3 linked regions of the Homo sapiens genome follow. The protein of the gene in region 1 purifies or fractionates together with the protein of each later gene. This does not show direct contact. Each region holds a gene or a part of one and is shown in the gene's direction. Other genes may lie near its edges. The genes, in order: CTNNAL1, PPFIA1 and NPTN.

The links.
Region 2: the proteins of CTNNAL1 (region 1) and PPFIA1 purify together in Homo sapiens (tandem affinity purification; one study listed by IntAct). This does not show direct contact.
Region 3: the proteins of CTNNAL1 (region 1) and NPTN purify together in Homo sapiens (co-immunoprecipitation; one large-scale study listed by IntAct). This does not show direct contact.

The regions. Positions count from the first base shown.
Region 1 is NC_000009.12:108,992,895-108,996,546, reverse strand, and holds part of CTNNAL1 (alpha-catulin), read left to right. Parts: intron 1-1,555; exon of another isoform or gene 1,556-1,639; intron 1,640-3,652. UniProt on the Homo sapiens protein: May modulate the Rho pathway signaling by providing a scaffold for the Lbc Rho guanine nucleotide exchange factor (ARHGEF1).
Region 2 is NC_000011.10:70,273,668-70,277,319, forward strand, and holds part of PPFIA1 (liprin-alpha-1), read left to right. Parts: intron 1-3,652. UniProt on the Homo sapiens protein: May regulate the disassembly of focal adhesions. May localize receptor-like tyrosine phosphatases type 2A at specific sites on the plasma membrane, possibly regulating their interaction with the extracellular environment and their association with substrates.
Region 3 is NC_000015.10:73,595,309-73,598,960, reverse strand, and holds part of NPTN (neuroplastin isoform b precursor), read left to right. Parts: intron 1-1,591; coding exon 1,592-1,939; intron 1,940-3,652. UniProt on the Homo sapiens protein: Probable homophilic and heterophilic cell adhesion molecule involved in long term potentiation at hippocampal excitatory synapses through activation of p38MAPK. May also regulate neurite outgrowth by activating the FGFR1 signaling pathway.

The DNA.
Region 1 (3,652 bases):
CCAGGCAGCTCCATAAACGGAGTATTTTGGAAGCTGTCAGGTTTCATGGGCTCCACATGTCATCTTCCTCCTAGTGTCACTCAGGTAAGAGTATGAGAATGATGCCTTCTGGAGTTGTAAAATATAGAAGCCTTTTTTTCTCTTAACACATACAAATTTAAGACTTCATTAAATCACTCCTGTAATGTTTCTAGCCCACTCAACCCCTACGAATCATTTTCTTTGTTTGTCAACAGTGTTCATTTGAGGGAACTAATATAAAGTAGTAGATAAAAAACTGGAGCTGGCTGGGTGCAGTTGCTCACACCTGTAATCCCAACACTTGGAGGCCAAGGCGGGTGGATCGCTTGAGCTGTGTTTGAGACCAACCTGGGCAACATAATGAGTCCCTGTCTCTACAAAACATAAGAAAAAAAAATAGCCAGGTGTGGTGGTGCGTGCCTCCAGTCCCAGCTACTTGGGAGGCTGAGATGGGAGGATTTTTTGAGCCCAAGGAGGTTGAGGTTGCAGTGAGCAGTGATGGTGCCACTGCACTCCAGCCTGGGAGATGACAGAGAGAGACCCTGTCTCAAAAAAAAAAACACTAAAGTCTTAGGGTCAGATTGCCTAGACTTTAATCCTAGTGCTTCTACTTGCAAGCAGGGTATATTGGGCAATCTATTAAACATTTCTAAACCTCAGTGTTCTCATCTATAAAATGAGACTGTTAGGGTTTATAGAGGTGTTTTGATATAATGCATCTATCATTTCACACATAGTAAGTGCTCAATAAATATTAGTTGTTATTATTATAATTAATTTTTATTCTTACTTCCCTGTGTTGAACTCTTACATTGTATTGTTGCTTTTTACTTGGCTACCAGGCAAGGTTTATATTTATGTTTTATATGGAAGTTCAACAAATATTTGTGTTTGATTGACCTTGGGTTTTCCTATTAAGGCACAGCACTAGTAATGACATATAATAAATTAAAAATGATACCTGTGAAGCTGTAAGACAGCTTTGTTACTTTTTTAGGGAACTGATTTCTGAACAGTTTACACTTTGAACAACTTTATAATGTTAAGAAAGCATTTGCCCATGTTGGTGGAGCCAACCAAATGTTACTGTCCCACGTACTTATGAGTTAAATGCCTGGGGTCTAGTCAGAAAAAGGAAAGGTTGAATAATGCCATATGTGCAGGCTTATATGTCGTATCCTTTGTGGTTGAGAGGTGTAGAAAAAAATTAACATTTTCCAGAGGATCAGAGGAAACATTTTTATCCTTTTAGCTATTAATGATAGGATGCAAACTGATACTTTTCCTCCTGCCCTTTCTGTATGCCTTAAGGTTAATTCTAAGCACTTTTGTTCTCTGTTCTTTGCTATGAAAACTCTGTATTAGCTACCTATTTCTGTGTAACAAATTAACCCAAACTTAGCAACTTAAAACCACAAACATTTACTATGTCAGTTTTTGAGAGGGCACCAATCAGGGAGTGGCTTCACTGGGTGGCTCAGGGTCAGTGTGTCTCATGAGGTAGCGGTCAGTGTGTTGACCAGGCCTCTGTTACCTGGAAGCTTGAGTGCACTGCAGGTCTGCTTCCAGCCTCCCTCTCATGGTTGTTGGCAGGCTTCACTTCCTTGCTGGCTGTTGGCTGGAGGCCTCACTTCCTCTCCACGTAGTTATCTGTGTAGTAAGGGCTGCTTATGACATGGCAACTGGCTTCTCTCAGAGAGAGAGAGCAACCCAGACAGCTGCCTCAGTTATTTTAGAACCTAAGCTTGGGAGTGACATACCACCACTTCCACCATACCAACCCTGGTATGATGTGGGAGGGGACAGACAGCACAAGGTTGTCAATAACAGTAGGTGGGGATCATGGGGAGCGATCTTGAAGGCTGGCTACCACAGAATTCCTCTATCTGTAGAGCTTCAGCTATTGTCATTATACACAAGACATCCAAGTCTGCATTACCAGTCCATGTCTTGCGACTTATCTTTGGTGTATTCCTGTGTTATTTCAAACTCCTGTTGTCTGACAGTAAAATTATCATCTCTCTTCCAATGCCCTTCGATTTTCTTTAAGCAACTTAGGTTTACAACTTTGAGGCCATTTTTTTACTCGTTCTTTCCTTCTTATCATTGGTCAGGTACTAATTTTGTGTTTTCTTAATGTTTCCCAAATCATCTTCTTAATGTTCCTATGGCTACTATACTAGTAAGGTCCCTACTATTTCACACCCACAATTGATACAATAGCCTGGCTCTAAGTCTTTCCTTTCCATTCTATTTTATGTACTCCTACTAGACTGATCTTTCTTTTTTTTTTTTGAGACCAAGTCTCACTCTGTCACCCAGGCTGAAGTGCAGTGGCGCCATCTCAGCTGACTGCAACCTCCGCTTCCCAGGTCCAAGCGATTCTCTGCCTCAGCCTCCTGAGTAGCTGGGATTACAGGCCCCTGCCACCACACCTGGCTAATTTTTGTATTTTTTTAGTAGAGACCGAGTTTCGCCATGTTGGCCAGGCTTGTCTTGAACTCCTGACCTCAGGTGATCCACCCGCCTCGGCCTCCTAAAGTGCTAGGATTACAGGTGTGAGCCACTGTGCCTGCCAGACTGATCTTTCCAAACCTTGACTTATACTTCACCCTGTGGCCTCTCCATTAAGATTCCAGTACTTTTTACTCAAGATCCTTAGCCTATGAGCTGACACATTATTGTGTGTATGTAATAGAATTGACAGGAGGGCTTTTGTAAGAAAATCAATCCATTAGGCACACAGGTATATTTAGGACTTTAAAAAATGATCTTGAACACTATAAGTTGGTTAAAGGTTTATTATTTTAAAAATCTTTTTAACAGTATGGAGGTTTGAAGAATATTGTAGCCTTGTATTATAATACAAGAATACTTGGATTGTTTTATTAGTAGATAATTACCATTACAGAAATCAAAAGTTTTGATAGCAACAGTGAAGAAGATAATTTTTCTAGAGGGTTGGGAGTTCAATTAATAGAATGGTTTATGCTGGGCATCATAAGAAGTTTATATAAATTCAAACTGTAGCCTAAATGAGGGCCAGCCTGTGGTTTGAATTCTCAGGAGGGAGGCTTTTGTTTTGTTTACTTTCCCCACCCAAAGTCCAGGCTGACTGACAGACAAACTTCCTTATTGTTTCTTTTTGCCTATTGACAGTTCTTTCCGGGCCCCCATTATATTGAAGATGTCATCCCTTGGGGCCTAAAGCCCTGTCTTTTTTCTCTCTCTGAGGATCCGTGAAAACCCAAGGGTGAAAACCCAAGGCCGTTCAGCTTGTGGAGATTGGCAGTGACCCCTGACTTCTCCCCGGCCTCGCCCCAGCCCAAGCCTTGGCACCTGCTTACTGCTCGGGTTTTAGGGTATTCTTTGGTTTTTGACTCATGGGATTTCTCTTACTGTCTTGTAGGGCAGGAGGCTTTTAGATTGTGTAGTTTGCATTACCACTGGAAACAAAAATTATGATGTTTTTCAAACTGGGTGAGGGCAAAATTTGTCACAGTTCTTAAGAGTGTGCTATTATTTTCTGGTTAGAAAGCTTCGTATGATAATCCCTACAATCGTCAAGGTGAAACCGTTTCTTGTTCCTGAAGTAAGACTCCAAAGCTGAGTTTCTCCTCATTGTGCCTTA
Region 2 (3,652 bases), on another chromosome or scaffold:
ACAATAATTTGACGTTAGCGCTCTATGTTCCTTTTTTGTTGGATTAAAGAATCATTAAGATTTTTCTTATTTCAATCTTATAAATTACCAAGTTTATTTATGTTGAATTTTATTACTACAATTTTAAAAGAAGTAGCCAATTTATGTTTTACCAGGATTTTATTGTATTTGTAATTTAAGGTACACGTATTGAAGTGTATATCAAATACTAATATACTTAATAAGGTAGGTTTTGGAAAGAATGGGCACACAAGACATGTCAGGGAAGTGACAGGAGTTTTGTACAGTTAGTCGCAGGCTGTGGAGGTTGTCACACACACTGGTGACATGGTTGCTCAGTGATTTGTTTCTGGCACTGCTCAGTGTAGCAGCCTGGGAATGCCTAGTTCAGTGGATAACATGATGATGCCAACGGTTCACGTTACCACCTGAGCACCTGATTCCAGCCTTTCAAAAATGGAAACTATTAAGTAAACTTGTTTTGGACCCTTCCCTTTCCTGGCATCTGGTTCATCTTTGGTGGCTGGTAGTGTGACCAGATAATGAGTCCAGGAAGTGCATTTGTGCTCCTGGCACATTGTGGAGGCAAGTTAGAGTGTACTTAAAAATATACATAACTATAGCATACAGCAGAAAAATTCACAAATCGTAAGTATACATCTCAGTGGACTTTTCACAAAGTTAACACACTTGCATACCACCACCCAGATCAAGAAATGGAACATTATCAGGCTTCCTAGAAGTCCCCTCCTAACTATTCCCAGTAGTTGTCCCCCAGAGCTAACCAAGGTCTTGACCTTTCACCATTGATTACTTTTGCCTGTTCTTGACTTTGTTTAAGTGAAGTAAAATAATCTGTATGTTTTGCTTCTTCATTCTGTCGTCAGCATCATGTTTGTGAGATGCAGCTTGCTCATTCTCACCTGCTCTCTGGTCATCCCGTGCACGAACAGACAGAACTTATTCTTTCTACTGCTCACAGACATTTGGGGTTGTTTCCAGTTTTTACACGTGCTCCCCTAATATTGTTTGTTTTTTGGTGCAGATGTCTATAAACTTTTTTTTTTTTGAGATAGGGTCTCACTCTGTTGCCCAGGCTGGAGTGCAGTGGCATGATCTCGGCTCACTGTAGCCTCCACCTCCCAGGTTGAAGCGATTCTCCTGCCTCAGCCTCCCAAGTAGCTGGGAATACAGGCACGCATCACCACCCTCCGCTAATTTTTGTATTTTTTGTAGAGGTGGGGTTTTACCATGTTGCCCAGGCCGGAGGATATGTGTACACTTCTGTTGGATTTCTACAAAGAAGTGGAATGCAAATGATGGTGTGTGCATTTGTTCAGCCTCAGTAGAGAGTGCCAAAAGTGGTGGTTGTGACAGTTTGTACTACCCCAGCAATGTATGAGAAGTCAGTTGCTCCTATGCTCTTCAGCACTTGGTATTGTTGGGTCTTTACATTTTAGCTGTTCTGGTGGCTGTTAGCTGGTAGGTGGCTCAGTATGGTCTGAATTTGCTGCTCCCTGATGGCCAGGAACATGCAGAGGTAAAGCATCTCTACCTGTGTTCACTGGCCACCTGGATGTCTTTTGTGAAACGGTTATCTTTTGCCCATCTGTTGATTGGGTTGTCTGTTTTGTTTTTTACTGATTTGAAGGAGTTTTCTCTATATTCTGAGTACATATGTGCATGACAGATTGTTTTTAGACTCTTGTGTTTGCCTTTTCACTCTCTCAGTTGTATCTTTTGATACATAGAAGTGTAAAATTTTTAATGTAGCCCAGTTGATCCATCTTTTCAGTAATGTTTAATGCTCTTTGTGTCCTGTTTAAGAAATTTGCTTGGTCAAGTTCATGAGATATTCTACATTGTCTTCTAAAAACTATTTTTTAATCTTCCATCTGAAATTGACTTTGTTTATGGTATGCGATGGGGCCAAGAGTCTCTCTTTCTTTTTTTAAATGGATATCTAGTTGACCTTGCATAATTTCTTAAAAGACTATTCTTTCCCCAGTGTACTACATGCAGTGTCATCTCAGTCCAGTGACTGTAAGTGTGTGGGTCTGTTTCTGGACTCTCTTCTGCTCCTTTGATCTTTTTGTCATCTTTGCACAAATAGCACAATGTCTAAATTCCCATAGATATAGTCTGTCTTGAGATCTGGTAATTTAAGAAAAGGGTACTCACTCGGTTGCCCAGACTAGTCTCCAACTCCTGGTGTCAAGCGATCCTCTCACCTTGGTCTCCCAAAGTGCTGGGATTACCACTGTGAGCCACCACACCTGGCCCTGTAGATATTCTTTATCAAAATGTAAAAATTCTCCTCTTCTTAGTTTGCCAAGAGTTTTTTAAAAACCATGAGCAGGTATTAAATTTCTTAACATGGATTTTCTGCATCTTTTGAGACAGTCATGTGATTTTTCTGTTATGTGGGAATTTAACTGTTTTTGTTTGTTTATTTTTGAGATGGGGTCTTGCTCCATTACCCAGCCCGGAGTGCAGTGGCACCATCATAGCTCGCTGTAGCCTTGAACTCCTGGGCTAAAGTGATCTTCCCACCTCAGCCTCTCAAGTAGTTGGAATTATAGACGCACGCCACTGCGCCTTGCTTTTTTTTTTTTTTTTAATTGCATATTGTTTGTAGCCTGGGGAAGCAACTTCAGGAGCTCCTGAGAAAGAGCACCTCCCTTTTAAAAAAAATTTACAATTGTAGAATAATTCCAACCTGATCTTGATGTATTCTCCTTTTACTGGATTATATTTGGTAGTATTTTGTTTAGGATTATTGCATTTATATTCACGAGAAAGATTGACTTATAATTTCAGTTTCCTTCAGTACCCTTGTTGGGATTTGGTATCAAGGTTATGCTGGTTTCTTAAAACAAGGTGGAATGTATTCCTTCTTTTTCTACTCCCTAGAAGAGTTCCTACGAAATTTGTGTTTTCTTCCTTAAATGTTTGAAATAATTCTTTGGCAAAACCAGCTGGTACAGGGTTTTCCTTGTGAGAAGGAAAAATTTTAGAATTAATTTTATAGGTAGATGTAGGATTTTGAATATTTCTTCATGTGTCTATTTAGATAAAGCATTTTTCCCCGCTAGAGATTTGTTCAGGCCACCCAGACTTTCCAATTTGTAAGTTTAAAGTGGTTTGTAATCCTTATTATCTGCAAGATCTGTAGTGATGTTCCCTTTTAATAATTCTTGATATCAGTAATTCATATATTATCTCTTAATCAGTCTTGTTGGGGGTTTGTCAATTTTGTAAGTTCTTTTAAGGGACCAACTTTCGGCTTTACATTTTTTTCTACTTACATTTGTTTTCTATTGCATTAATTTCTACTTTTTTTTTTTTGCTTTTTTTTTGTTTGATTGAGATATATATATATATATATATATATTTTTTTTTTTCCAGGCACAGTCTCATTGTGTCTCCCAGGGTCAAGTCCTTAGATACTTGAACTGGATTTAACTCCCTCCTACCTTTTGTGTCATTGTTTTATATATTTCAGTTTAATTTATATTTATTTTTAAAAATAGAGACAGCGTCTTGCTGTATTGCCCCAGCTGGTCTTCAACTCCTGGCCTCAGGTGATCCTCCCCCCTTAGCCTCCCAAAACAATGGGATCCAGGCGTGAGCCACTACACGCTTTTAGCTG
Region 3 (3,652 bases), on another chromosome or scaffold:
TTGGCCTCTACTTGAGTAAGTATAGTACCTCCATTAATGTTCTTAGTCCATGGTGTGGGGTTATCACCAAAGGCAAATACTGCTATGGATGTAAACAGGAATTTTTCCACTTAGTAACCTCCATTTTCAGCTAGCCCTGTTAACATCCTTGGCTTCTGGACTGTAGGAAAACAGTTCCATTTATTTCATCCTTTCCTCTGGAATGTTCTTAATTTGATGTTGGCAGATCCTGACCTCACTCCCTGCTTACTGCACAGGGGCTGGCTTGGCTTATGCAGCAGGCCTCCCAGGGGACGTTTCCAAGCCAATCAGAATGCCCTCTTTTAGTGTCTCTCTTTATACCTTCGGATACTGTCTGAATCAGTAGAAATGCTGAATGAACCCTAGGTGGGGTGGAAGGGTAAGAGAGAGTATGCTTGCACTCTGATTTTGTTTCCTATGGACCTAACTCCAAGTTTTTAAACTAAGCCTGGATTTTTTTTTTTTTTAACTCTTTCTGCCATTTCCACCTTGTCTTATGGAAGTGTAACCTCAAGCAAATTATGGGCAATTAGAGGTAGGCATCAACTTTAGTTCCTGGGCAGTTCCTAAGAGTGTTGGTTGAGGCCTGGCTTTCACCCTAGTGTTTAGTTTAATTCATCAGGGTACATTTCTCATTCTTCTGAGCTGGCTTCTAGAAGCCAGGCAATTCAACTGTATGGAGCCTGTCAAATACCATAGCTTTTCAGATTTTTCTAGGTAATGGATCTATGGGGTTATGGAGGGCACAGTCCCTCCATTAGCTGGCAGTGAGTTGGGTTGCTGGTATTGTTGGTCCCACTTCTGAGCTGACCCACAAAGTATTAATATCTCACTGTGGTGTGAAGTACAGACTGTCTTGTTCTCCTGAGGGTCTGCATTCAGGAAGAGGCTGCCTAACGCTAAACAACTGGGTTGTTTGTTTGCCATAGGCCCAGGGAAGAATAGGAGGTGGAGAAAGTCTAATCGAACCCAGGATAGAATCCTGTGTGAGAGAGAAATTTGCTACTCTTTCAGTTGAAATTTGAACTCTGAATCCCAAGAGAAGGCACCAGTAGGTCATTTAATACTTCTTGTTGAGGCTTGCAAAAGACACTGCATTTCTAACAAAGCGTTTGCCCATCCAAAAGAGAGATCCTGATTTGGCATATAAAACTACTGCCTCTTCTGGTTATCTTTCATCACTTGCCTGAGTTTAAAAAGGTAATAAATGGTTTGTGTTCTAAGGAAAGAGGCTCTTCCCAAGACCTGAGGCTTTCTCATTCCTACCAGCTGGGCCCATTGCTAAAATGCTTTCCAGTGGGCTTGCTTCTGCCTGGCCAGCACCTGGGCTGCCCCAGCTTGTAATTAGCCTGCCTTTGCTTCATAAGCTTCCCAGGGTGTGGTTCTTCTTCTAAAAGCTTGTATGAATTGCTGTACTGTCTCTTTATAGTTTAAAAATGAATCCTTTTTTGTTCTTTGCAACTCATTTGCTTTTTTCTTTTCTTTTCTTTAAATTACTATTAACACCTGTTGATTCTTTTTTTTTTTTCTGATTGGCCTGTCACTGCATTCCTGCTCCCCCTCCCTCTAGCTGGGTTTGTCAAGTCGCCCATGTCAGAAACTAAGCTCACGGGGGACGCCTTTGAGCTGTACTGTGACGTGGTCGGGAGCCCCACGCCAGAGATCCAGTGGTGGTACGCAGAAGTCAACCGGGCAGAGTCTTTCAGACAGCTGTGGGACGGTGCTCGGAAGCGCCGTGTCACCGTAAACACCGCCTACGGGTCAAACGGCGTGAGTGTGCTGAGAATAACCCGGCTCACCTTGGAGGACTCTGGGACTTACGAGTGCAGGGCCAGCAACGACCCCAAGAGGAATGACTTGAGGCAAAACCCCTCCATAACATGGATTCGAGCCCAGGCCACCATAAGCGTCCTTCAGAGTGAGTCCAGCACCCTACAGTAGTAGTACTGTAGTCATTAGAGGTGGCCCAATGACCCTTCCCTTCTGCATCCTTTCCCTCTTCCCCAGTATGATCACTCACCCCACCCCTTGTCTTCGTTTTTTTTTCAATCCCATGACCCTTCTGGTTGTAGTGTATGAAAACATCTGTGGCAACTTTTTTTCTTCTTTTCTTTGCCGTTCTCTCTGCCTCCCTTATCCCCCAACCCTTCTCTGTGTCTTTCTTCTCAGGAACAAAGAACTTGAGGAAATCCGTGACTGTCCAAAATCATCTGTGTTGGGAAGAGTTGGGGAGGGAGAACTGGGAAGCTTAAATTAAAACTCATAAAACCAGGCAGTCCAAGGAGGGTAGTGTTGAAATGGTTTTCCCTCCCCTTTGATTTTGTAGTAGGTTTCCTGCTATACTTTTGCTGATTTCTTCTCTGGTGCCTTTCTATTTTTGTTTCTCTCCCCAGTCTAACTACTTTTTATTTCTTCTGTTCTTCTGTTTGAAGCTCTCTAAGTAGCTGCCTTCACCTCTATGGTTTTAAGTTTGTGTCTGCCCAGCCTCTTCCTTTAACTGTGACTTGGTGTCATCTTGTTGTGATGGGAATGTTGCCATGGGTGCAGTGTGGTGGTGTGTTTTGGTTGTTGGGTGGCATGTAAGCTTGGATATTTTCATAGTTCCAGCTCTTTTTCTTTTCTAAAACCGTGGCATGTGCTTCTCTGATAACAGCCCTCTACTGCAGCAGTGTACTCCTCACTGGGCCTGCTAATTAGTCTCCTCTTTAAAAGCAGCAGCCTGGGACTTCCTTCTTATGTTTTGCTGTTAGGAGCCAGGTGACACTAAGCTGCAAATTATTATTTTTTTAGCCCATCACACTGTTTGGAAGTCAGAGTTGCAGTTGATTCCTGTTCACGGTTTGACTCTGATGAGTAGCTGTTGGCACAGTGTACCTTATCCCAGAGCATGGGAACTCCAGACATAGTGTGGGGACCACTCACACTGGCCTTTTCTTTGTGTCTTGAAAAAAGAGGAAACTAACTTCCAACCTGGTTTCTCATAGTGATGGGGTGAGCTGACCAGCTGGCTCAGAATCCTCTCCTTGTAGCAGGTATGCGTGAGACATATGACACCGGGACTTTTGTGGCCACTTCTCTCTCTTTCTTGAAAGTGACTTGCTACCTTATGTTGAGAAGCAGAGAGAGGGAGAAGCCACCACAGAACCAACGTTCCTGGCCAAGAAGAGTTCTGGCCCCACATCAAACCTGGTTATAATTGAGGGGACATTCACTTTTGGAAAGATCCTCTGGGTTTTTCACCTTCTCTTTGAGGACACAATGAGAGATCTATAGCCAGTTCCAGCTTAAAGAGCTGATTGATCTAGAGAAAGTAAGAATAGTAAAATCTTACTTTGATGAGGAATTTGGTAATAACATAAAGTAGTAAGACATGGGCCTTGAGTCTATATACTTAGATGGAAAATAGCAAATTAGTGTCTGTTCTTTGTAGCCACTTGAAGATCCTATGGGTAAAAAAAGAGTCCTTTGTAGGGCAGTGGTAGGAGAGGCTGCTGCAGTTGGCACTGTTGAATCAAAGAACCTGCTTCTGGAAAGAGGAAAAGAAAACCTTGTCTATGTGAAAATGGGGAACATTAACCCAGTGATTTTTTTTTTAACAATATTTTTACCCTGCACGCCTCCTTCTCCTGCC